Linked DNA regions of Homo sapiens: region 2 is linked to region 1. Evidence: fine-mapped expression QTL. A gene starts in region 1. The other region holds a variant in brackets. All regions are shown on one strand. Distances are between the middles of the regions.

What was found. PIP is the estimated chance that this variant, and not a neighbour inherited with it, causes the effect.
Region 2: its variant is fine-mapped to the expression of YBX3 in whole blood (INTERVAL, PIP above 0.99).

The regions. Positions count from the first base shown.
Region 1 is chr12:10,722,184-10,725,097 of GRCh38, forward strand. YBX3 (Y-box binding protein 3) reads right to left here and starts at 1,140. Exons shown (of 10, transcript NM_003651.5): 1 at 667-1,140. The coding sequence starts at 928. It overlaps LOC124902876, which reads left to right and starts at 869. Exons shown (of 2, transcript XM_047429946.1): 1 at 869-1,477; 2 at 2,854-2,914. The coding sequence starts at 927. RefSeq lists silencers at 386-785, 916-1,015, 1,036-1,255.
Region 2 is chr12:10,696,217-10,699,130 of GRCh38, forward strand. It overlaps YBX3 (Y-box binding protein 3), which reads right to left. Exons shown (of 10, transcript NM_003651.5): 10 at 2,873-2,914. Among named protein-coding and RNA genes, the nearest start is that of STYK1, 24 kb to the left of the region's middle. The variant A/G (reference allele first, on the strand shown) is at 1,262.

The DNA of each region.
Region 1 (2,914 bases):
GAGAGGGGGAGGAAGACGTGGGACTAAGACCCAAGTTTCCCGGAGACGATTGCAACATCTCTTTGCTGGCATGTGGCCAACAGGAGCATGGCGTCTTTCCCATGCCCATGTGGGAAGGGCGTCAGGGACAGACACCTGACCCTTCCTGGCAAGAAGCTTTTCTATCTTTCCCTCCCCGTCTCCTTCTAGCGCCCTCCTCTTCCCCAAAGGAAATGCTCTCCTTTCCCAGATCCCAAGCAAGGACCCCAAAGCGCCAGGCCCACGTGTCGGTCCTTCCCCTACATCCATCCCTACCCAAGGTCCCCTCTCCCAGACTGCCTCTCCTTTCTTCTCCAAACGCAGGCATTTTCCACCACGCGAATCCGCAACAGTGCCCGTCTGGGAGACAGAAGTTAAGACCTAAACTTTCTGGCCCGGAACCAGAAGGGAGATGCACACGGCCGCCAGGAGCGCAGGGCGCAGCGCGCTCACCTGGGAGCGCCGGCAAGGGAGGCGGCCAGCGCTGGGGACCCGGAGACCCCTGGGGACCCGGAGATCCCTGGGGACCCTGTGCTGTCAGCGTCTCCAGCCCGGGTGGGAGATGTAGCGCGAGCTGCCCACACGTGCTCCGCGGCCGGCTGGGCCCGCCCCACTACGGCAGCCCCTGCCCTCCCTGGCCTGACTCACCGAGAACTTTTTTCTCCGCGTCTTCGCTGCCGGCGGCGGTGGCTAAAGAGGCGGCGGCCGCGGTGCCCGTGGCTGCGGGGGCCGCGTCCCCACCGGGGTTTCCTGCGACGTGGGCGGCGGGCGCCGGGGCCGCGGCCTGGGGCGCACCGCTGCCCACCGGGCTCTTGGGCGCGGGGTCCTGGGGAGCCGCGGCGGCCGCCTCCGTCGGAGCCTGCGGGAGGGTGGTGGTGGTGGTGGTGGTGGCCTCGCCCGCCTCACTCATGCCTCCTCCTCCTCTGCTCTCGCTCAGGCGCCTCGGTGGCGGTTGGTCGGCGGTTAGCGCGGCTGGTGGTCGCGGCGGCCGGGGCTCGCTCTCGGGGAGGCCGGGGCGGATCTCGCGGCGCAGGCGGCGGCGGCCGAGGTGGGGTCGCGCGGCGGAGGCGGCTCGAGCTTCGTGCTGCGCGCTCTCTCTTGGGCTCCTCGCTCGATCTTACTGCCCCAAAAATGGCCCCGCACAAGTTTTTCTAGGCGGCGCACCGGCCCGGGAGGGAAGGGCGGGCGAGGGGAGAGGGTGGGGAAACTTGGCTCGGGAGTCGGGCCCTGGACTCTCATTAGCATTTAAAGGCGCCCGGTGCGCTTTCTATGGCTCCAATCCGCCGGGACGCGAGCGCGCGGGTCGCGTTGCAGAACCAAGGAAAGCCAGGGTGAACGGGGCGCCCGGGTTGTCTTCTGGAGCGTTCCGAGGAGCCCGCGCTGCTGACCCTTTGTTGGAGCGGGGTGCATTGGCTCTCCTCCCTCAACCCGTCTTGACACCCGCAGCTGACAAGGAGAGGTAAAATAGGGCACCCAAACTACTCTGCGCTTTACCCTCTCAAACACTTGTTTTTAAATCCTTTGCATCTAGTCAGTCATTCAACATGTATCAAGCACCAGCAGCTATTCGTAGCACAGCTGTTAAGACCTGGAATAATAAAACCTTAAGACTATTTGGCAACTTACTCCTGAAAGGTAATATACGGATAATTTCATCTGTAACACGCAGATGAGGAAATTGACCTCACAGATTTAATGTAAATTCAGAGTTTACACCAATTTAACCGCAACAAATAAGGAGCTGTCAATATATATTTAATAAGGAACACACACAAAAAAAGCTGAATAAATCCACTTCCTACCTTCTGCTCCAGTTGCCTCTGCCAGCTGGTGAAAGCTTAAGGAACTGAGCCCTCTTAGCCTCGAGGATGAGAGGTATAGAGAAACAGATCACCCAATAAACATTATTCCCAAGTTGAAGAGCCCACATGCCCTTTGAGAATGGGCTGGATGGTAGTAAACACAGGGCCAGAGGGTCTGGGATCTGTACCCAAAGACTGTCTGGAATACAGGACTATTTGGCCCCTAGGGTTCAGACAGACTAGGTATAAATTCTGGCTTTGTTTTTTATTAACCAGGTTAACTTGGGACAGAGATTCAATGTCCCAGAGTCGGTTTCCTGCTTTATGAGAGGTTCTCAAAGGTGACATGAAAAGTAGATGAGATTATCATGTGTCACTCCAGTGTCCGGTCCACCTAAAGCTCCTTTGTTTTGTTTGTTTTTTAAGTTATTGCCTGTTCCCTCAAACAATTTACCAAATTTTTTTCCAGGAATATGTCTGTAATGTCGATGTCTACCTTAACATCAGTAGGGTAACTATCAAGTGTAATTCATCTTTGTATCTCCACTGGTTAGTACAGTACGTAGCACAGAGTTTGGACATAGTGAATGTTTACAAAATGAAAACAGACCAAATTCTTCCAAACTCAATTACTTATCTGCACATTTGCTATCAATTATTATGAAACTTTCCTGAATTCTTACTTTCTTATTTCATCCACAAAAAACACAAAGAAAATAAGTTATTTGAAAAAATAGCAAATTATGTAATTTTGAGCTTTTCTATGTAATTCATCAATATTTAAAAAATTACAAACTCTTAAATGTTAGATTCATATTTTAGTTTGACTTCAGTATGGAGCATACAGTGATGTTATATAAATGTAGATGCTTTTAAAATGCTGGTCTAATTCTAAGAATGATTAAATTATTTCTTCATGTGAAAGATTATGGTCTTAATTACAATTAAATTATAAACATGATTTATTCTGGTGAGGACTGACCATTGACTTTCTTATTCAGCAAAATGATTATCATTGCTATTTACCTTTCAGAATTACATTACAAGAAAAAAAAGTAAGGAGATTGAACTCTTCAAACCGATCCAACAGTAAA
Region 2 (2,914 bases), 26 kb before region 1:
TGTTGCTCCTCACAAGAACACCAGTCATATTGGATTAGACCTCACCCTAAAATGGACTTATTTTAAACTCATCTATCACCCCTTAAAACAACTTATCTCCCAATATGGTTACATTCTGAGGTACTGGAGGTTAGGACTTCAACATTTGAGTTTTAGGGGGACACAATTTGGCCCTTAACAGCCATTCTGGAAAACATCTTAGGAACTTTTTAAAATAACAACACACACACACACACACACACACACACACACACACACACTTCTTCCCACAATTTTTATTACTCGGGAAATTCTGTTCTCAACTGATAAGAGGGAGTTTTCACCAGTGGTGCCAAGTCCATGTGACAGGCACAGGCGTTGCCTGGAACCCCTTATGTGCAAGCCTTCATGAATTTGACAATGAGATCAATGCATAAAAGAACAATACTATGGCAATAACAAAGTGGTGATTTCTAGTCTCTTTTATCAGATGCCTCTATTCTATACCCCTTTTACTAGAATACTGTCCAAACTAGAGGCATAGGGAGGGATCTGCAAACTAAGCTCCCCGTGTTATTTGACCAGTGTGGATCATTCATTAGAGCTTACCATCCCCATTCTGAAAGCCTGGGTGATTCTGGAGCTAGCTCATCAGTTAAAATGAAATGCTTTCACAAAGCATTTTGGGAAAATCACAAAGCTGATGAATTCTTATTTCTGCTACTGCACAAGATCACATTTCCAGAGATTTATATCAGCACCTGTATCCTTTCTAGACTTTTTCTTATTAAACAAAATGCTTATGCCATAATATACAAAATCAATCTTGAGATTCTTTTCCATTTTTTAACTGAAACTAGCTTCAATCTAATTTAGCTCTAAATTTTTTCTTTAAAATCTCAAAACATGTCTTTATAAACACATTTATCCACTCCACTAAGAGCAAAAAGCTTTCAAAACTTGCATCTTTGCAATAAACACAAGAGCCCTTATAACAGTTACAGCTGACTTACTTGTGATCTGAAAGCACCCATCACTCTTGACACATAGTAGGAGGCAAATACTGATTTGCATAGTGCTATTTTCTGATAGGTGCAGTGCCATCAAATATGAACAACCACAGAGTTAAGTTGTGATTGCCGTATGACAGATAGCCTTCTAGTTAATTTCTGGCTGTGGTCTCACCCCGGTAGCCTGTATTTCTTGATAAAGCAATCCAAGGTCCCTCACCAGTAAAATAACATACTTTTGGCCCATCCTCACATCACATCCAATTTGTGTT[A/G]TTTCTGTACCTACAACCAGTGTGTTTTCCCCAACTCTGCATTCATCATTCCATTTTATTTTATTTTTTCCCAGAAATAGAATAGCTACCATCCTGAAACAGATGACAGTATTTAGAAGTAAGGATGTTGGGATTATATCAAGCAAAATGTTTGCAATGGCAATTAAGATACCCTCAATATCCCATGATAGAAGGCTAGTACAATTATGGATAGCTATGTAATGGAATGTTATATAGTCAGTACAAATGATGAGAGGACTCTATAGGAAAAATATTAGGTGAAAAAGAAAATCAGTGCCAAAAAGTATACGTACATTTTAAAAACATTTTAAAAAGTATGTTTGAAATATTCTATACTAGAATAGCTTTAAAGTGAGCAGGAAGAGAGAAGGGGAAGTTAGGAAAAAGAAGACTGGCTAAATAGTATAGTTGAACTATCCATAGAATTTTAAACATGGATATGTCTAATGATTGTTTTTAAGTTGTTAACATAAGCACAATTTAAGCTCATTTCCTCTTCTCAAATTTGCATTAGTCGGCCAATCACACACACACATACACACACACACACACACACACACAGAGACTCACACACATGAAATATGTGAAATGGGTCTATTTTTAAGATATGCTAACTGGTTGCCTGGAGGAAACTGGAACCAAGATGGGAGCCTTTTTTAATAGAATAAAATAGTTGATTTTTTTTTTGCCTTGGCCTATTACCAATTTTTACCAACCCTTTTAACTTGCAAGATAATACAAGGTTCTTGAACAGTTCACATTCACCTGCTTGCCATTTATTAGGCCAAGAATGCTCCCTCCACCTGCAATGCTCTTCCCTGCAGATACTCAAATGTTTAATGCCCCTTCACCTTAGGACTCCATTTAAATAGGAGACCCTCCCCACTATTTAAAATCAACATATCCCCTATGATTATGCCAGTCCCTGTCCTCCTACCATGTTTTATGTTTCTTAACAGCACTTATTGCCATCTAAATTAAATTCCATACTTGTTTATTTTCTGTATGTACCTGGTCATTGAAACAATGGTATTTTGTTGGTTTGTTCCATCCTAGCCACTAGAATAATGTTTAGCACAAACCTACACTGGATATGTACTGCTGCAGCAGTTCTGAAAAGTAACTATACGGCACTGACAGCTGCGATAGTTTTTCTCAACTTAGGGGCACCATGGCTGGGAGGGGGAGAAATGTAGTTGTAAAGAGCTCCCTTGTATACCTACAACACAGCAGTTACTGGTAAAAACCTCAGGCTGGAAGTTGAAGGATGTTAGAACTATTAACTCCTTCGTTAATCTAAAGGTCATCACGTCACCTCACTGAATGAAGATTACTCAAAAAGAGACAGTACCAAATAATTCATGCCTACTACTGAACTCAGACATGAACTTGTCAATTTCCAGCTGTACATTTCAACAGGAATCCAATTTTTTATCATCTCAAGCTTATATGCCTAAATTTGTGAAACAGCATTAACTTAACTTTACATTTGGCTTTGAATTTACTATTAATCAAGTCAAGTAAATCAAGTGGTGGAGAAGACAAACACACGCTAAGGTCGGCAAAAATACACTCCCATTAAACATTCTGTCCTCTGAAGGGTAAAAATTTTATTTTTGAGGAATTTCTTAC